3 linked regions of the Homo sapiens genome follow. The protein of the gene in region 1 purifies or fractionates together with the protein of each later gene. This does not show direct contact. Each region holds a gene or a part of one and is shown on either strand. Other genes may lie near its edges.

Region 1 (7,026 bases):
GACACAGACAGCAAATAACAGCCGATTAAGAAACAGTAGGTACTGACAAATACAACTCTGAGACTCAAATAGGTTATCCAACTCTGGGTGGGGCCTCTAACCTCAACCTGGGGAATATGAGTATTCCTGTGTCTCCTGGGGCCTAGAAGGCTGAGTATATTGCAAAGTATATTGCAGAAAGGAAAAGGGACAACAAAGGGAATGGAAGAGACAACAAAGAGCACTCACCTATACATGAATCCAAAAACTTAGGAAGCAAGAAACCTAGAACTATTTGTCAGATGTTAGCATTTTATAGATAAAATCATTCCACAATTTTATTTTATTTTATTTTTCTGAGATGAGATCTCACTGTTACCCAGGCTGGAGTGCAGTGGTGTAGTCACAGGTCACTGCAGCCTTGACCTCCCCAGCTCAGGTGATCCTCCAACCTCAGCCTCCTGAGTAGCTGAGACTGCAGGCAGGTGCCACCATGCCCTGCTAATTTTTGTATCTTTTGTAGAGATGGGGTTTCACCATGTTGCCCAGGCTGCCAACATTTTAGAAACATGTTTCCCATATTATAAACATTTCTTAATTGGAAATGACTCAGATATCCAGTGAGTCATGCCAGGAAAGCCATAGACCAAAATTTTGGGTAAAGTAGTCTTCATGAAAGTTTGAGGGTTTTTTATTTTTGTTTTTGTTTGTTTGTTTTGCCTTTTCACATTTTGTTTTTCAGTTTCAAATGAGTTTCTAACATGTACATTTCTTTTACAGTTCTGGTTGAACTGTACAAGAAAAACAAAATCTCTAAGTAACCTAAACATCAAGTTTTATTTCAATACTAGTAGACTAATAATAACAGATTCAAATCAGGCAGAAAAGAAGAGAAAAATAGAGAGCTTTAGAAGACTCTGTTTAATTTCATAGTTGCAGGGCAAAAGTAACCACCAGAATGATAACAGGCTGAAGCTTCAGATAAGAGAATGAGACTCCAGGTTTCCACAGGGGGCAAGCAGATAAAGATTGCTGCCTGTTTTAACATGGGGTGTAAAAGCATCTGAGTCCTGCAATGTTTAAGATATAGCAAGAACAGGCTGGGCACAGTGGCTCACGTCTGTAATCCCAGTACTTTGGGAGGCCAAAGTGGGCAGATCACCTGAGGTCAGGATTCAAGACCAGCTTGGCCAAGATGGTGAAACCTTGTCTCTACTAAAAATACAAAAATTAGCTGGGCGTGGTGGTGGGCACCTGTAATTCTAGCTACTTGGGAGGCTGAGGCAGGAGAATCGCCTGAACCTGGGAGGCGGAGGTTGCTGTGAGCCAAGATTGCACCATTGCACTCCAGCCTGGGTGATAGAGCGAGACTCTGTCTCAAAATATATATATCAAGAACAAATCTTGTAAGTCCTCAGGTTCCCCATGCTATCCTGAGACATGACAAAGCAAACGAAAAGGTGACAGTCAGAAGGCAAGTGTGGAAAGTGAATGCAGTAAACCTCTGGGCTGGCCATAGGGGCCACTGTAAAGCTGCAGTAAAGCAAAGGCAACAAGTTGGGAAGTGATGAGAAGTATAGCTTTCCCATATCTGGCAAAGGGGACAAAGTGGATTAGTCCAAAGCATATACTGGCGTACATCTTGCAAGGCTACTTTAATTTTTATTATACCCCAGGGACTCTCACCCCATTGGGCTGGGACTCTAACCCAAATATTATACCCTAGAGACTCTAACCCCATTGGGCTAGAAATATTATCCTTGATAGGATGCCAAGACAGACCCCATTTATCAGAGGTGGCCAATTAGTGCTGTGCAGGCTGAATCTCCTCAGCATGGGATCTCATCCTAATGTCCCTTTGTAGTCACCAGAACATGCTACCAGATAAGGGGTCTTGATCCAGATGCTAAGAGAGGGTTCTTGGATCTCACGCGGGAAGGAATTCAAGGTGAGTTGCAGAGTGCAGTGAGAAGAGACAGCTTATTGAAAGCTACTCCATTGCGGAGTAGAGCGTCCTCAGAGGGCAAGCAAAGGAAGGCACCATCCTTATTTTAAGTTTTTCTTATATAGAGCCTTTATCTATGTAAAGACTAAACTAAGCTACGTCTACATGTGGGTGAGCAGACAACATGACACAATTTATTATTCTATTGATTTAAATAAAACTATCCTTGACATTTTAGTGTGTAAATACATCCAAACATAACTGTAATTATCTTGAAAACATATATTGTTATGGGTATTGGGATACCTGGACTTTCTGCTGTTTAGGAGTGTGTCCTTGTAGGTATCTGTAGGCTGTTCACTCAACTGTAAATATCTTCTTAATGTGGGTCATGACCAGCAAGGAATTGTGCCTTGTTAGTCTCCAGATGGAGCTGAAATTAAAACGGCATTACTCTGGCTCTCCTAAGCTCCTGCTTCCTTAACAACACTGTTAGAAGTTGAAGGTTTAATTGCTTCTTTATCTAGACTTGTAATAAAGTATAGGTGACTCTTGAACAATGCAGGGCTGGTGGTGCTGACCCATGTGTATTAGAAAATCCAAGTACAGGCCGTGCGCAGTGCCTCACGCCTGTAATCCTAGCACTTTGGGAGGCGGAGGCAGGTAGATCACGAGGTCAGGAGATCGAGACCATCCTGGCTAACACAGTGAAACCCCGTCTCTACTAAAAATACAAAAAAAAAAAAGAGCCAGGAGTGGTGGCGGGCGCCTGTATTCCCAGCTACTCGGGAGGCTGAGGCAGGAGAATGGTGTGAACCCAGGAGGCGGAGCTTGCAGTGAGCTGAGATTACGCCACTGCACTCCAGCCTGGGCGACAGAGCGAGACTCCATCTCAAAAAAAAAAAAAAAAAAAGAAAAGAAATTCAAGTACAACTTTATAACGTAAACAGTTGATTAACAGATAATTTTATGTTATATGTATTATTTTCTGAATTATTTAAGTTAGAGTAAAGCAAATGTTATTAAAAAATGATAAGGAAGAGAAAAATATATTTATTATCCATTAAGTGGAAGTAGATCATCATAAAAATCTTCATCCTGATGGTTTTCATGTTGAGTAGGTGGAGGAAGAGGAGGGACTGGTCTTGCTGTCTCAGAGGTGGTAGAGGAGGTGGAAGTAGGGACAGGAGAGGCAAGCACACTCATTATCAACTTTTATTAGGTATAAATGGACCTGTGCAGTTCAAACTCGTGTTGTTCGAGTCAACCATGTCCTTAAAATATCCAACTTTTTTTCTCTCTTTATGTTAATTTTTCCAGAGTTTGAAAAGCCAGATAGTGTAAATAGGCTTGTGATGAAAAATGCAGTCCTTTGCCCATCTCCCTGGCTCCCTCCCGACTTGCTAATCCCATTCTCTCAAGCAAGGATTTCCAAATCTTTTGTTTCTTTTCCGCCACTTTCATGTTGTCAACTCTTAATTTTATTGTTCTGCTCTGCTATTTAATACAGTACTGTGTTTTACATATCTGAGTCTTAAGATTTGCATAAGTTAGTAATAATAGAGGTGAGTTGGTGGTACTTGGTCTAAATACCTTAATACGTATTTTTCCTTTCTAGTGAAACCATTTGCAAATCAAGAAGAATATAAGAAAACTGAAGAAATAGTTCAAAAATTTCAAAGTGGGATTGGAGAAAAATTGCACCAGAAATTGCTTGAAAGAGCAAAAGGAAAAAGAAATTGGGTATTTGTTGTTATAATTGAATAATGATGATGTTTAAAGAATGATAAATAAAAAGTGCATAGTTTTTATTTTTAAATTATTGCTGTAAAAATTTTTACAGTTATTATTGTTATTTTCATAATCCAAAAGAAGGAATGAATCACTTAACTTTGGGAGTTTTCAGTGGGTGGATTCGGGAACTTGTTAAAATGCAGATTTGCTGGGATAAGTGATTCTGATTCACATGGCTGGAATGAGGCCCAGAGATTCTTATTTTAACAATCACTTCATGTGGTTTGGCTGCAGGTAATCTGTAGACCATGCTGAAGGAAAACATTTTGTCCAGGTGACTAGCTTGAAAAATCAGAAACACTAAAATAGACATGTCACATAGGTGGCATAGAAATATTTTCGTAGTACAATGGAGAAAGGGAATCATTAAAAATCAGAGTGGAGAATGGTTATGTATATTGTATATTTCAGTTAGATAAATTGAGGAAGCTAGTATAATAATTATTGAAGGTCTCAATAATTTTCCACAAAATTCTTTAACTTCTTCAGCTCAACCATTTCTGTACTTCTCTACTATGAATCAGAGGATGAGGTTGTATAATTCAAAAGCATTGCCTTAGTCTAGAAATAATTATTGTACCTATCATTTAGTTTTAGAAATAAAAAGCAAGCTGATTTTTTTTGATGAACCATTTATATCTGTGATGGAATAATAAAATTTCACACTTCCGGATTCCTTTGTTCTCAATTTTGAGCCTTGAGTTGTTTTAATTAAAGAGGGGTAAAGGTAAAGAAGTTGTTGTTTTATCTGTATCTTTTTTGTTTATGTCTCTTTCTGAATTACTAATTATAGTTTATAACATCACTTTCTTCAAACAAGACTCCAGGTAATTTGATAAGATGTGCTTACTTATGCATGGAATTCAATTGCATATTGTGAAAGAGGGACACATAGAAAACAGTGTCTGTGAAAAATCTAAATTACTTTGAAGCCTACTGAAAACTTTTATTTATTTGTTTTATTTATTTATTTTTTGGAGACAGAGTCTTGCTCTGTTGCCCAGGCTTAAGTGCAGTGGTGCAGTCTCGGCTCACTGCAACCTCTGCCTCCTGGGTTCAAGCTATTCTCATGCCTCAGTCTCCCATGCACCTGGAATTGCAGGTGCGCACCACCACACCCAACTGATTTTTGTATTTTTTGTAGAGATAGGGTTTTGCCATGTTGGCCAGGCTGGTCTCAAATTCCTGGCCTCAAGTGATCTGCCTGCCTCCGCCTCCCAAAGTGCTGGGATTACAGGTGTGAGCCACTATGCCCAGCCAGTTTTTATATTTCTGATTTAGTATTGCAGTTTTTGTTTGGAAAAGGAAAATTGTTAATGCCTTAATAACTGTTATTATTAGGTAAGGATTTATTGATTATCTATTATGCCCCAAGTACTCTGAAGAAACACCTATGTACTTTATTGCATACTTGTGACTACAATACAATGATATTTCTGAAGGTATCTTTTGGTGCTTTCTTGATACTCGTTTTTGATAGTGTAGTTAAAACAAATAATACCTAAGATCCTATAGCTCCCCGCTGAAAAGAAATTATCACAATAACATTTCTCAATATCTATGATGATTTAAAACAAGAAAACATGTTTTTATTTATTTATTTTTGAGACAGGGTCTTTCTCTGTCACCAAGGCTGGAGTGCAGTGGTGCAATCATAGCTCACTGCAGCCTTGAACTCCTGGGCTCAGGTGGTCCTCCTGCCTCAGCCTCTTGAGTAGCTAAGACTACATGCAGGCCCAGCTAATTAATTTTTTTTTTTTTTGTAGAGACAGGGTCTTTCTATGTTGCCCAGGCTGGCCTCTAGGTCCTGGACTCAAGTGATCCTCCCACCTTGGCCTCCCAAAGTGCTGGGATTATAGGTGTGAGTCACCTCACCCAGCCAAAAAACATGTTTTTAAATGTTGAAGAATAATTAAAGAACAAATATAGCTTGCTTTTTAAAATTCCCAGTAGTTACACATTCATGTATTATGAAGAACATTAAGCTGATGTTCTCAATTTCTTTTAGCTGGAAGAGTGGTGGCTGAATGTTGCCTATCTGGATGTTCGTATACCATCACAATTGAATGTCAACTTTGCGGGTCCTGCAGCTCATTTTGAACACTACTGGCCTCCAAAGGAAGGGACTCAATTAGAAAGAGGAAGTATAACTCTTTGGCATAACTTGAACTACTGGCAGCTATTAAGAAAGTAAGGACACATGTGAATTTAGTGACAGGCTTACCTGAAGTCTCAGGTAGCAAAATGTTGAGAAGCTTAATTTACTTATTTGGGGATGAACACTTCAGTTGTGGCTGGTTTTTAAATTTTATAATGACTTTTTGATCAAAATCCTTTTTTTAATAGAGAAAAAGTGCCTGTTCATAAAGTTGGAAATACTCCTCTAGATATGAATCAATTCCGAATGCTATTTTCTACCTGCAAGGTTCCAGGAATTACTAGAGACTCCATTATGAATTATTTTAGGACTGGTAAGTAAAAATGCAGATATCGTTTTTAGTAAAGGCACTGGAATTTGGGTAGCCTACTATGACGTGATGGAACATACACTTTTGAAGAATATTACTGTTGGGACTTTGACAAAGAAAGGTTTTCTGTGAGCCTTATATTTGAATCATTCTGATTAGATGTAATTTATGGGAACGGATTTTCTAAATGTATCTTACATGGTTCAACACAAACCTGATGCTTATATTTCATCATTTGAAAGTTTAAAGTTTACTTGAAGAGTAGAATCAGAGTATTAAGAAAATCCTGAAACATGAAACATATGATCTGGATGCTTCTCTTTCTACCCTCATTTTTTATTACCTGAATTGTCTTTTTGAGTGTTTACTTATATGTGCTTATCATGCCACAGTCTCCCTGTGAGTCTGCTTGTCCCTCCACCTTATATGAGGTAAAAGCCTGGAGTCACTCTTCCTTTTTTTTTTTTTTTTTTTGTTTGAGACAGGGTCTCACTCTGTTGCCCAGGTTGCGACCTCAGCTCACTGCAACCTCCACCTCCTGGGCACAAGTGGTCTTCCTGCCTCAGCCTCCTGAGTGGCTGGGACTATAGGCAGGCACTGCCATACCTGGCTAATTGTGTATTTTTTGTAGAGATGGAGTTTCACCATGATGCCCAGGCTAGTCTCAAACTCCTGGGCTCAAGCAGTCTGTCCGCCTCAGCCTCCAGAAGTGCTGAGATTACAGGCATGGGCCACCATGCCCGGCTTGGAGTCACTCTTCTTAGAGACACATGAGTTCAGATTGACTCATCAATTTTTTTTTTTAAACTGGCAGTTTAATGGCAGTTTCTGCTTGGTGTC
Region 2 (7,026 bases), on another chromosome or scaffold:
CTGAGGGAACCTGGCGTTTTCATTGAAGGAACGGAGAGGACGCTGGTGTATCTTGGAGAGTGAGGCCAGGTGGGAGGTGAGGTTGGAGAGGTGGGTGTGGGGGAGGGAAGATGGTCTGCAGGTGTGTGTAGTTGCAAGCAGGACACTGAAGGCTAGAAGGAACTTGAAATGCCAGGCTCGGGTGTGCATGGGAGTGTCTCGTAAATGTTGGGAAATGGGCACTGGGACTGAGGCGGGAACACTGGGTTCCAGTGCTGCCCTCTGTGCTGGCACATCAGTACCTTGAGTCACTCTCGATGGTAGTAAAAGTTGAGACCTTCTTACTTGGATAGACTGCAGCTGGTATTTGCTGAGCTCTTGCTGTGCAGGCAGTGTTTTAACTAGACACAAGTCTTGCTCTGGTGGAGCTCATATTTTATTATTTTGTTGGGGTGGAGGAAACAAATAAGCAAGAGAAATATATCAGACACTGCTCAGCAGACAGGAAGGCAGGCAGGCGTGACGGCCCAGGCCTGGGCTCTGAGAGGTGCTGAGGGTGTCTGCAGTGAAGTCACGATGGGCTTGTCTAAGTGGAAGTTCTTGTCAGACACTGCTCTGCAGACAGGAAGGCTGGCAGGTGCGACGGCTCGAGTCTGGGTTATGAGAGGTGCTGAGAGTGTCTGCAGTGAAGTCACAACGGGCTTGTCTAAGTGGAAGGTCTTGCAGAGGGAGCGTTAAGGGTGTGGAGATAATACTTGGTGCACACATCTACCCTTTAAGCAGACTGCCTTTGAGGTCAAGCTCTGGTTACTTTCGAATGTGTCAAACTCTGCATTTCAAACAGGCACAGTATGTTGCAATTCACAGATGTGACTGAGCCCAGTCGAATCACACTGATTGGAGGAAAGCTGAGCGGGCTGTGGCTCCGCGGCGGGTCCTGGGAATAAGTCTCACGTGTGCCTGCTTGCTTGCCCTAGGAAGACCTGGAAGCGCTCATAGCCCATTTCCAGACACTCGATGCCAAGAGGACTCAGACTGTGGAACTTCCGTGCCCCCCACCCTCACCAAGGTGAGCAAGTAGCATTTTTCATATTGTATGTTTCCTTTTCTTCTATACATTGAAAAACTGCTTTAAATAGCACCAGGTTTCGTAAATGACCAGGCACTTGGGACATTTTCATTATTAAAACCTGTTCTTGGTCACTTTCTGCTGAAGAACTGGAATGAGGCTGTAAGCTTTACTGTCATGGAACCTGGGAGCAGGGCCTACAGCACAGCTGCTGCCTCTGGGCTCCGGTGCCAACTTTGAAAGCTCCTCCACTGGTCGTGACGTGGGGATGAAAGTTTTGCCCCAGTGAGCTTTTCTTTGGTTCTTAAGGTATTTTAAAAGTGCGTACTGTAGGCAGAAAGCTGAAAATCACTGTGGCCTTTTGATGTGTTTGTAATGCTTTCAAATTCTCATGTGAAAAGTTTGTTAAACATAAATTGAGTATAAGCCATTTTAAATGGATTTGAAAATTACGTAAAAACGTTCCGAGTCTGTAGGATTTCATACACGTGTGGGATGAGCTGGAATGAGAAATGGTTTATTTCCCTCAGTAGGAGATTAACCTTGCAGGATTTACCCTTTTAATAAAGCTGCTGCAGGCCCTAGTGGAAGCCGGGGTTCAGCCCATCGGGAGTGGAGGGTCACGATTGTGCTGCGTTTGCATTAATGAGGCGCATGTGATGGCTCTGGTGCCCGAGTCCCACCCACCGGCCTCAGAGGCAGGGTTATCATCACCTGCCCAGAGGTGGGAGGAGCACGGTGATCAGCCCCTGAGCAGAGTGAGTGGTGTTGGAGCCACTCCCAAAGGCCAGTGTCCTTCCTGGTTTTCACTTCATGTCCATTAGGATTTTAGTTTTCTTTTTCCCTTTAGTTTGCATGTTGCCCTCAGGGCCAAATGTAAGTTACATGTGGTAAATGTACTTTTTTTTTTCTTTTTGAGATGGAGTCTCACTCTGTCATCCAGGCTGGAGTACAGTGGCATGATCTTGGCTCACTACAACCTCTGCCTCCCAGGTTCAAGTGATTCTCCTGCCTCAGCCTTCCAAGTAGCTGGGATTACAGGCGCCAGCCACCATACCCAGCTAATTTTTGTATTTTTAGTAGAGATGGGGTTTTGCCATGTTGGCCTGGCTGGTCGTGAACTCCTGACCTTAGGTAATCCACCTGCCTTGGCCTCCCAAAGTGCTGGGATTACAGGCGTGAGTCGCTGTGCCTGGCTGTAAATGTACATTTTCATTTGAGTTATTGGAGCAAATAAATCCTTGATCTTAGGCTTCTGATATATAGCACTCCTGAGGAAAGCCACTTTGAATGGGGATTAGTTTTATTTTTTTTGTAGAGACTTTTTTTTTTTTTTTTTTTTGGGACGGAGTCTCACTCTGTCACCCAGGCTGGAGTACAGTGGCGCCATCTTGGTTCACTGCAAGCTCTGCCTCCCGGGTTCACGCCATTCTCCTGCCTCAGCCTGCCAAGTAGCTGGGACTACAGGCACCCGCCACCAAGCCTGGCTAATTTTTTGTGTTTTTAGTAGAGACGGGGTTTCACCATGTTGGCCAGGATGGTCTTGATCTTCTGACCTCGTGATCCGCCCGCCTCAGCCTCCCAGAGTGCTAGGATTACAGGCGTGAGCCACCGTGCCCGGCCCTGTAGAGACTTTTTTTTATGTTGTCCAGGCTGGTCTCGAGTTCCTGGGCTCAAGTCACCGTACCTGGCCTTTTTCTTTTTTTTTTTTTTTAATGATATTTTAGAATTTTTCCATAAGTAATGTTGCCTGAAAGTCAGATTTCATGTCAGGATATAATTTAAGGTGTTGGCAGTTCCCTGGGTCAGCTGGAAATGCTTCCTAATAGGAGGGAGCAGTTATCCTGAGATTAAGATCTTTTGCTTGGTAACCTTAATATCTTCCAACTTCCTATTTCTTAATCATATTACTTTAAAACCTTGTGAGAATGACCAGTTTCTAAATGAGCATATCGTCAGGATTGGCTCTGATGTGACCTACCTGGAAAATGGGGGCATGACACCAGCTGCCTCAGTACCTCACCTGCCTGTGCGGCGGCAACACCTGGGCTGGTGCCGCTGGTGGCTGGGTGGGGACCTCAGTTTGGGCCCCGTGTAGATCGTTTCTGAAGTTGTGTTTGGTGCTTTTCTGCAGAAAATCAATAGGTATTCAGTGAGAAAAGATTCAGGGTCAGAGGAATTTGGGAAACACTCTTTATTTTTTTTTCTGAGACGGAGTGTAGCTCTTGTTGCCCAGGCTGGAGTGCAATGGCACGATCTCGGCTCACTGTAGCCTCCTAGGTTCAAGTGATTCTCCTGCCTCAGCCTCCGGAGTAGCTGGGACAATAGGCATGCACCACCACGCCCGGCTAATTTTGTATTTTTAGTAGAGACGGAGTTTCTCCGTGTTGGTCAGGCTGGTCTTGAACTCCCGACCTTAGGTGATCCACCCACCTCGGCCTCCCAAAGTGCTGGGATTACAGGCGTGAGCCACTGTACCCGGCCTATTTATTATTTTTAAAAAGTTTTTTTTTTTCTTTTTTTCTTTTCTGAGACGGAGTTTTGCTTTTGTTGCCCAGGCTGGAGTGCTATGGCGCGATCTCAGCTCACTGCAACCTCTGGAGTCAGGCTGGCCTCAAATTCCTGACCTCAGATGATCCAACTGCCTTGGCCTCCCAAAATGCTGTGATTACAGGTGTGAGCCACTGCACCCGACCTAAAAAGTTTTTTTTATTGTGGTAAAATGTTTAACAAAATTTGCCATTTTATTTTATTTTTGTTTGGTTTTGGTTTTTTTGAGACAGAGTTTTGCTCTTGTTGCCCAGGCTGGAGTGCAATGGTATGATATCGGCTCACCGCAACCTCCACCTCCCAGGTTCAAGCAATTCTTCCTCAGCCTCCCAAGTAGCTGGGATTACAGGCATGCGCCACCATGCCTGGCTAATTTTGTATTTTTAGTAGAGATGGGGTTTCCTCATGCTGGCCAGACTGGTCTCGAACTCCCCACCTCAGGTGATCCGCCCGCCTCGGCCTCCGAAAGTGCTGGGATTACAGGCATGAGCCAATGCGCCTGGCCAAAATTTGCCATTTTAATCATTAAAACTGTGCAGTTCAGTGGAATTACTTCATGTCGCTGTGCAACCATTAGCACTAACCAGTTGCAACATTGTTTTATCACCCCAAATAGAAACTCTAGACCAACCTTGTCTAACTGGTGGCCCAGGACAGCTTCGAATGCAGCGTGACACGTATTTGTAAACTTTCTTAAAACATGATGAGATTTTTTTTTAAAGCTCATCAGCTATTGTTAGTGTTAGTGTATTTTATGCGTGGCCCGAGACAATTCTTCTTCCATTGTAGCCCAGGGAAGCCAAAAGATGGGAGAAGTGTCTAGACCCTTCAATGGTTGCTCCCTGTTTCCCCTCCCCCAGCCCCCTGGTGACTTCTGGTCAACTTTCTGTCACTGTGAATTGGCCTATTCTAGGTATTTTGCGTAAGTGGAGTCATAGAAGTGTCTTTTTGTGACTGACTTCCTTCACCTGGTATGTCCAAGTTCATCAGTTCTGTGGCATGTGTGAGAACTTTATTTCTTCTTATGGCTAAATCCTGTTCCGTCTGTGGGTATGCCACATTGTGTTTGTCCACTCATCTGCAGACCAACACTTAGGTTATTTCTACTGTTTGGCTTTTGTGAGGCCGTAACGAGCATTGCATACAGGTATCTGTTTGAGCTAATGCCTGGGAACGAACTGCTGGATTATGTGGTGATTCTGTGTTTAGCTTTTAATACTGGTTTCTTTCCTGCAGAAATTCCCAGCCTATGACATGTTTCTATGCAAATAAATCCCCAATAGAAAATAGAGTTCTCAGATTTCCCAAACTCACTTGACCTTGAAACCTGTTTTTCCTTTGAGAAACATCTTTTGGAGTTGGCATTATGGAGCACGCCTTGGGGAACGCCGTCTTAGAGGACTCTGAAGGGAGGATCTTTCCCAGTGATTCGCCAGATAGTCACTGTGTCTTTCATTACTTTCAACTGAAGTGGCCCTATGTATTTATTTATTTATTTTTTGTTTTTTTAAGACAGTCTTGCTCTGTCTCCCAGGATGGAGTGCAATGATGCAATCCTGGCTCACTGCAGCCTCTGCCTCCCGGGTTCAAGTGATCCTCCTGCCTCAGCCTCCTGAGTAGCTGGGATTACAGGTGCCCACCACCATGCCTGGCTACTTTTTGTATTTTTAGTAGAGACGGGGGGTTTCACCGTGTTTGCCAGGCTGGTCTTGAACTCCTCACCTCAGGTGATCTGCCCGCCTCAGCCTCCCAAAGTGCTGGGATTACAAGTGTGAGCCACCGGGCCTGGCCCATAATATTATTATGTAATTTCCTTGTAGCTCTTCTTTTGTTCTCATGTGAAATAAATAGAAAGTTGTTTGTATTTTCTAGATGGAAGATATCTGGCATGTATATTGAAGTACTTACATATGGACTTTTTTTTTTTTTTTTCAGATGGAATCTTGCTCTGTCGCCAGGCTGGAGTGCAATGGCATGATCTCAGCTCACTGCAACCCCCAACTCCCAGGTTCAAGTGGTTCTCCTGCCTCAGCCTCCCGAGTAGCTGGGACCATAGGCACGCACCACCATGCCCAGCTAATTTTTCTATTTTTAGTTGAGACGGGGTTTCGCCATGTTGGCTAGGATGGTCTCGATCTCTTCACCTCGTGATCTGCCTGCCTCGGCCTCCCAAAGTGCTGGGATTACAGGCAGGAGCCACTGCTCCTGGCCTAGTTACTGGACTTTTTAGAATGGTTTTGAGGTGATTTGACAGGATAGGCTCTTAAAAGAGGACAGTTCTGAGGTCCAGGCACGGTGGCTCACACCTGTAATCCCAGCACTGTGGGAGGCCGAGGTGGGCAGATCACTTGAGGTCCGGAGTTTGAGACCAGCCTGGCCAATGCAGTGAAACCCCATCTCTACTAAAAAATACAAAAACTAGCTGGGTGTGGTGGTGGGCACCTGCAATCCCAGCCACTCGGAGGGCTGAGGCAGGAGAATTGCTTGAACCCAGGAGTTGGAGGTTGTGGTGAGCTGAGATTGTGCCATTGCACTCCAGCCTGGGTGACAAGAGGGAAACTCCATCTCAAAAATGAAAAAAAACAAATCAAAAAAACAGTTCTGGAACATTTGATACATCAGTAGGGGCATCTGGACTTATTCCTGCCTGGGGAATTTTTTTTTTTTTTTTTTTTTTGTTAATACAACCAGACACTGTGTCAGTCCAGCTCCATGGTTGTCCTTGGAGTGTGGCCCTGGGCACTGGTAGAGGGGTTGGTGTTCAAGTGGCACCTTTGCTTCCTTTCTCGATGCCAGGCTCTCCTTTCAGGAAGTGTAGAGGCAGCCAGTTTGTGGTGACAGAGGATTCTGTGAGGAAGGGGACAGCGCTCAGGTGGGTATCGGGGGTGATCTTGCTGACCTGCCGCTTGTGTGTCTTGTAGGTTAAATGCCTCCCTCTCGGTTCATCCTGAGAAAGATGAGTTAATCCTTTTTGGAGGTGAATATTTCAACGGCCAAAAAGTAAAGTATATATTTTTTTCTTTTCTTCCCATGTTGCGTGAGTATCATTTGACAGAAAGTTAACTTAAGGCAGTGACATCAAATATGCGTTAGCCCCTTCACCCCTTGTATCACGCGCTTGAGCCGTCAGGCCTGATGTGAGACGTCGCCAGGATGCTCCAGGCCCTGGCATGACTGTTGATGACTTCAGTGGTCCTGGGGTCTCTATTCCTGGGACTTAGGCTGAGGCCCAGCTCTGCCGTCATCACTCTTGGCGGGCGCACCCCTCTTTGTGGTTGTCTGTGCTGTTCTTCCTCCCAGCGGGTTTCCAGGTTTCACACTCAGCTTTCAGGTTGTCTTAAACACGGAAAGTGCTGATAAATTTTAGGGCTAATTTTTATTTTTGAGCAGGCCAGTAAGACCTGTGTTTCACAATTGTGTGTGACACA
Region 3 (7,026 bases), on another chromosome or scaffold:
TGTCTCGGCCTCCCAAAGTGCTGGGATTACAGGCGTGAGCCACCGTGCCCGGCCTCATATACTTTCTTTTAATCTTCATTCCTTGAACCCATTAACTTACTGTTTAATGGTGTAATAGACAATTCTTGTTTTGTTTTTTAATGAAGAAAAACAAGCCATACCTTTAACCCAGGGCTTCTCAAAGTGGGGTCCCTGGCCAGTAGCATCAGTATCCCCTAAAAAATGTTAGAAATACAAATTCTACTATACCCCTGACCTAGTAAATCAGCATCTCTGGAGGTTTGGACAGTGATCTGTGCTTTAACAAGAGCTCCAAATGATTTCAATGCAAGCTAAAGTCTAAGTTAAAGTCTAAGTAGTTAAACTGTAACTGATTTAAGCTGGCCTTTTTTTTTAATTTTAATTTTTTTTTTTGAGATAAGGTTTTGCTCTGTCACCCAAGCTGGAAAGCAGTGTTGCGATCATCACTCATGGCAGCCTCGAACTCCTAGACTCAAAGCATCCTCTTGCCTCAGCCTCCTGAGTAACTGGGACTACAGGCGTGTACCACCATGCTGGAATGTTTTGTTTATTTATTTTCATTTTATTTTATTTTATTATGAGACGAAGTCTTGCTCTCTTGCCCAGGCTGGAGTGCAGTGGCACTATCTTGGCTCACTGCAACCTGCAACCTCTACCTCCCAGGTTCAAGCGATTCTCCTGCTTCAGGCTCTCAAGTAGCTGGGATTACAGGTGAGTGTCACCATGCATGGCTAATTTTTGTCTTTTTAGTAGATATGGGGTTTTGCCATGTTGGCCAGGCTGGTCTTGAACTCCTGACCTCAAGTGATCTGCCTGCCTCAGCCTCCCAAAGTGCTGGGATTACAGGTGTGAGGTATCACGCCCTGCTGTGCTGGAATACTTAAAAAAGTAGAGATGAGGTCTTACTATGTTGCCCAGGCAGGTCTTGAACTCCTGGACTCAAGAGATACTCTCACCTAGGCCTCCTGCAATGCTGGGATTACAGGCATGAACCACCATGCCAAGCTACTTTCATTACAACGGCCCAAGTAGTACGACTTGGTAGCACTTGACCTATAATTAAAACAATATACTTAAAAGAATCAACTGTCGTTGTGAGTTCTGGACTTAAAAATCTATACATACAAAGTGGTGACAGCAACTATCATAAATGGTAACTTTTTTTTATGTTGCAGCAGTAAAAAGCAAGGTACTCCTAATTTCATAGCTTGAACAGGCAAAAAAATTCTAATAAAACCATTTGTATAAGATACCGTATTTTCCTTTAAATTTAAAATTACTTTTTAATTATATCATTAAAACATATATACCTTCTCCTTGCAAATATTAAAACATTACTGATAATGATAAAGCCTTTGACCAACCTCCCCTTCCAATTCTTTCTTCCACTTAGGGTGTCTCATTGTAGAGATTTTTCTATGCATTTATACACATAAACATACAACCATCCAAACAAAATAGTATTGTTTTTTGATTTTTTTAAGCAATATCATCTTATATACATTATTCTTCAGCTTGCTTTTTTCATTCCACCATGTGTCTTGGAGCTCTTTCTAAGCCAGTACTTAAAGATTTTTTTTAAACTTCTGTATAGGCGTGGACCTACCAGAATTTATTTACACATTCTCCTACTGTTGAGATTATTTCCAATTTTTCACATTTTCACAAAATGCTGCAATGAGCATCCCTATATATGCCCTGTTGGGTTTCTGAATTGCGTTATCAACTGTAACTCAACTGTGACATAAATGTTATTGACTTGAAAGTAAATCTGGATCAGAAAAATGTTACAGCCTACCTAGAATGCACAGTATTTTTAAGAGATTTATAGCCACCAAGATCTCACTTTAAAAATGAACTTCTCTGAATCAATAATTTTGGCAACAGGGTAGCCGTATATAGAAAAGGTTCAGCTTTGAACAAAAAGGGATAAAATGCCTGGCAACACCCACATTTCTTCATAGTTCTCACTACTGAGGATGGTGATGAAAACCAGCACTGACTCAGTCTGGGCCAAGTGCCAGGCACTTTATGGCTGTTAACTAATTTAATCCTCACAACCACCTCATGAGGTAGGCAGTGCTATTATCCCAGTTTCACAGAGGAGGAAACGCAGGGCAGGGGGTTAATTCACTCAGCCAGTAGGACATAGAGGTGAGACCTGAACCCAGATGTTTTGACTCCAGAGTCTTACCCATCACAGAGGCTGATTTGAAACAAAATCTTGCTCCAAAGGGTGTTCACTAATATGTAAAAATATAACTACAAATGGAAGGTTGCTGTTTTCATTCTTTGTGAATGGCATTTTTCTTTTGTTAACCAGGGCTGGACAGCAAAGTTCATAAAAACAGTTCTTGGCAGCTCCTTAACCAAGCACAGTCTATCAAACCACTCCAGGGAGAGAAGTATACAAAATAGTCTAAAGAAAAATCTTGTTAAAAGAATAAGAAGGCCATGCGCTATGGCTCACGCCTGTAATCCCAGCACTTTGGGAGGCCGAGGTGGGCGGATCACGAGGTCAGGAGATTGAGACCATCCTGGCTAACATGGTGAAACCCTGTCTCTACTAAAAATACAAAACATTAGCCGGGTGTAGTAGCGGGCGCCTGTAGACCCAGCTACTCAGGAGGCTGAGGCAGGAGAATGGCGTGAACCTGGGAGGCGGAGCTTGCAGGAAGCTGAGATCGTACCACTGCACTCCAGCCTGGGCGACACAGCCAGACTCCATCTCAAAAAAAAAAAAAAAAAAAAAAGAATAAGAAATTGTGCTGATCTCAAGTTTAAAACTGACAGAGCATACAGCTATTTAAGAAGAGAACTAGGAAAGTTTTACCTACCGAGCCCATTCATTTTGCTACTAAACGGGAAAGGAAAGGTACTTCTACTTAAACCTCCCAGTACTGTTTTTAACAACACATGATGCTATTGCTAACCTTGACTAAATTACTCTTCATCAATGAAGAAGGCAGAACACTAAAGGTGACATTTTGAAGATGGAAATGAAACTTTCCATCTGTGATTCTATCATCATATTTGTCATTTTGGCCAACCTCATTGTTAGGGTGCATTTAAATAAATATGTTTAAAGCTCCATTGCATTAAAAAGATACCATAAAAGATTTCTTTAGAAATCTTAATATTTTCATATACTTCAAGGCGAGAAACCAACATAAAGAATCAAACTTGGCCCCTTTCCACAACTGTATGTATGTGTGTGTATATATATATATATATATCATATTCACTTTACACAAAAACAATCTCAAACACAGGTGCAGCTACTTTCACATCTGTAATGGTAAGACCATCAGTGACAGAGCATAACAATGTAAACCAGGCCAACTGGCTACTGCGATAGGTGGAATAGGGAAAGAAATGTGAAGGGTAAAAGAAATGTTGCAAATGGAAGAAGTGAATAAAAGCAAATGATTGGGAAAAAGAAGGTAAAAAACAAAGAGTGTCAGAAAGGGAAGAAACCAGCCCAGGTCAACTCCTGCAGGATAGCTGGACCAGAGGAGCATCTGGAAAAATCCAGACTGAAGGGATCTTATCTCCCATTTAACAGAAACTGACAGAACTTAGCTCTGGCTTGGACTGAAAACAGAGGCAGGACGAAATTAGAAAACACTTAAGTGAAGGACCTGGACAAACATCTTAGGCCTGAGGAAACATCTCAAGAAGGGTTCTCCCAAATTGGATAAAACTTGGCTTTGTAATTAAACATGCACCTGTGATTTACAGGTATTGAAACTCCTCTGGCTAGACTAAGGAAGTTATTTGCATTCTACAACTTAAATGAATGAGACAGCCAATGAAGAATGGTTAAGAAGCACAAGGGGCAGAATCTCACTCCCAAAGCTGTTTTTGAATAAGGAGCCTCGTCTTTGACCCTTTAGGAACCAGAGCAAAGGTCAGTATTTGGAATACCTAGGGCATTTCTCACCATAACCATCTCTATTGACTTCCAAGAGTATCCCATCAGTCCCCCAAAAGGAGTTTGAAAATCAAGTGTGAATTCCAAGTGAATTTCAGAGAATGTGGTAGTTAAGAGAATCACCAACCTACATGAGAAAACAGAACATATGAGACTAGGACAGGATTGGGAGAGCAAAGAATGAAGTCCTGTTCCTCACTTCTCAGCTTCCACATCACTTAGATGTCTGGCACACTCCAGCACAATCAAAAGTACAGGAGTAAAGTGCTATTAGAGAGAATCTCAGTGATACTCACTTCTTTAGAAAATCTTGAAAGTCAGCTGGTAAGTCACTAGGGATGGTCACAGGGTACTCTCCACATTCCTGTCCTTGGCTGAGGGACAGCAGCAGAAGGCCAAGACGCCAAACATCTCCTTTCTTCCCCGTTTTATAAGGCAGAGCATTGTCACTAAAACGAACTCGGGTTTGCTCAAACACATCCTCCTTGCAAATGTCTGCGAGGCGCTTAGAAATGCTATAGTCCGTAATCTTGACGGTGCCTTCTGCATCCACCAAGACATTAGATGCACTCAGGACCTTATGCACCACAGAATTGCTGTGCAGATAATCAAGGCCTGACAGGAGCTGAGCTGTGTACCTGCGAAGCTGATGCACAGGGATGGGGCCTGAGTGGCTCAGGTGTGCAGCAAGAGAGACCCCACTAATGTGCTCCACTAAAATGTCCACCACGATGGAGTCGTCTTGCTCTTTGAGATTCATTGCAAGGTAGCGTACTACATTTGGATGGCTCAATTTTACCAGTGAGTTGAATTCTGTTTCTGTTCCTTGAATCTGATAAGTTAAAAAAAAAAAAAAAGAATATTGGGCCAGTCAACATTAACTTGGGTTTCATTTCAAAAGTGAAGTATTTGATCATACAAGATGGGGGCATAAAAAAACAAAACCAAAACCAAAAGTGAAGTATTTGATAGAAAATATACTTTCAAATGAGAGGAGAACAAATATGCCCTAAACTGAATCCTCCCCAAACCATATGGTCAATCTAATAGTTCATAAAGATGGAAAAAATTTAGCTAATTCTCAACTTCTCTAATCTCAAAACCTACTATGCATATACTACAAAATTAGTGAACAGTTTTTAAAATAAAATTCTTTTGAGGTATAGCCACTAGAAAAAACAAACTTTAATTTAAAAATAACCTTTTCTGATTAGCTTTGTATTTGGGTTTTTAAAAATATAGTATATGATTTGAGCAGCAGAATAATGGCCACATCCTAATCCTCAGAACCTCACATGGCAAAGAGGAGTTAAGGTTGAAGACAGAAAAAAAAAATCTTTTCTGATTTAATAAAGATCATTGTCAACATTTAAAAAATTAGTTTGATAGAAAATACCCACATGTTATCTATGTGGTCACCACCCAGTGATAACTCAAGATTTTGGCACATTTACTTTCAGTTTTCTTTCTATACTTAAATACACACACATTTCTGAACACCATGCTTTATCTACGTTTTTGTAAACCTTGTTATTATGTAACACTGCAATATGCAATACTGAATGTTCTCCTTATGCTTGGTTATAAATCATAATTTATAAATTAACTTAAAAATCCTCCGGTCCCCCAAAATTCAGTTTTGAAGCAGTATTTTTCTTTTCTTTTTTTTTTTTTGGAGACAGGGTCTTGCTCTATCACCCAGGTTGCAGTTCAGTGGCATGAACACAGCTCACTGCAGCCTCAACCTCCTGGGCTCAAGCAATTATCCCACCTCAGCCTCCCGGGCTCAAGCAATTATCCCACCTCAGCCTCCCAAGCAGCTGGGACCACAAGTATGTGCCACCATGCCCACAGATTTTTAAATTTTTTGTAGAGACAGGGTTTCACCATGTTGCCCAGACTGGTCTCAACCTCCTGGGCTCAAGTAGTCCTCCTACCTTGGCCTCCCAAAGTGCTGGGATTACAGGTATGAGTCACTACACCCAGCCCTGAAGCAATATTTCAAGAGTAGGGAAAAGAAGAATTGCAAAAAAACCCAATTATGAACTAGTATTTAGTCCCAGTTGGAAAGATGACTGTTAATGCCATACTAAGGGCTAAGAAAGGAGGTTAAGAAGGCAGCTGGAAGTGCTTTGATCATGTTGTGAAAGTTCTGAAACCAGAGGCAAGGGGCAAAGAGGTACTGGTCCTTCACTGTCCTCCCTGGTCAAACAGTTCTCATACTGCTCTGGACCATCTCTGCAGGGCAAACAAATGCAGGGCTATTTTGTTCTGTCATCTCCTAAAGCCTGAGATTAGGCCTTTTGCTCAGTCAGCCACCTTGGATGCTTACCTGCTTTTTGCACTTATCAATCTTCTCTTTTTCTTGACTGGTAAGGAATGGACCCATTTTTTTCTGCCACTGAAGGACCCACTCATACAACAAGACAAAGCCACCAGTGGCTGTTTCCAAAGCATTGTAGACTAATTTTCCAAGTTGTTCATCACTGCCTGCACATTAAACAGAAAGTGTAATTAAATCCCACTGGTATGTTTTCTCTTGGGGGAAGGAAGGGAGGGGGTAATACACATTCTTTAGTTCAACAATGGATACCATGCGCTAACTATGGAAAATAGGACTTTATGTAATAATGTCCTTTTGTAAACAATTTTTGATATTTAGCAATATACCTGAGTCCTAAAATAATTTTTTATAAGGGGCAAGAATCTACAATGAGATCTTAGTATCAGGCAAATAAAGAGACCAATGTTTGGCCAGGCGTGGTGGCTCACGCCTGTAATCCCAGCATTTTGGAAGGCCAAGGCAGATGGATCACCTGAGGTCAGGAGTTCGAGACCAGCCTGGACAACATGGTGAAACCCCGTCGCTACTAAAAATACAAAAAAATTAGCCAGGTTTGGTGGCGGGCACTTGGAGTCTCAGCTACTTGGGAGGCTGAGGCAGGAGAATCGCTTGAACCTGGGAGGCGGAGGTTGCAGTGAGCCTACAACGCACCATTGCACTCCAGCCTGGGCGACAAGAGCAAGACTCTGTCTCAAAAAACAAAAGAGGCCAGTGTTTTATGCTACTA

The links. The genes of interacting proteins can lie anywhere in the genome.
Region 2: the proteins of CROT (region 1) and KLHDC4 purify together in Homo sapiens (affinity purification with mass spectrometry; 3 studies listed by BioGRID and IntAct, with this or other methods). This does not show direct contact.
Region 3: the proteins of CROT (region 1) and EIF2AK4 purify together in Homo sapiens (affinity purification with mass spectrometry; 3 studies listed by BioGRID and IntAct, with this or other methods). This does not show direct contact.

Annotation. Positions count from the first base shown.
Region 1 is NC_000007.14:87,355,664-87,362,689, forward strand, and holds part of CROT (peroxisomal carnitine O-octanoyltransferase), read left to right. Parts: intron 1-1,843; coding exon of another isoform or gene 1,844-1,927; intron 1,928-3,542; coding exon 3,543-3,667; coding exon of another isoform or gene 3,668-3,691; exon of another isoform or gene 3,692-4,391; intron 4,392-5,726; coding exon 5,727-5,908; intron 5,909-6,064; coding exon 6,065-6,189; intron 6,190-7,026. UniProt on the Homo sapiens protein: Beta-oxidation of fatty acids. The highest activity concerns the C6 to C10 chain length substrate. Converts the end product of pristanic acid beta oxidation, 4,8-dimethylnonanoyl-CoA, to its corresponding carnitine ester.
Region 2 is NC_000016.10:87,755,971-87,762,996, reverse strand, and holds part of KLHDC4 (kelch domain-containing protein 4), read left to right. Parts: intron 1-956; coding exon 957-1,048; intron 1,049-6,517; exon of another isoform or gene 6,518-6,519; coding exon 6,520-6,598; exon of another isoform or gene 6,599-6,603; intron 6,604-7,026.
Region 3 is NC_000015.10:39,965,105-39,972,130, reverse strand, and holds part of EIF2AK4 (eIF-2-alpha kinase GCN2), read right to left. Parts: intron 6,446-7,026; coding exon 6,288-6,445; intron 4,788-6,287; coding exon 4,252-4,787; intron 1-4,251. UniProt on the Homo sapiens protein: Metabolic-stress sensing protein kinase that phosphorylates the alpha subunit of eukaryotic translation initiation factor 2 (EIF2S1/eIF-2-alpha) in response to low amino acid availability.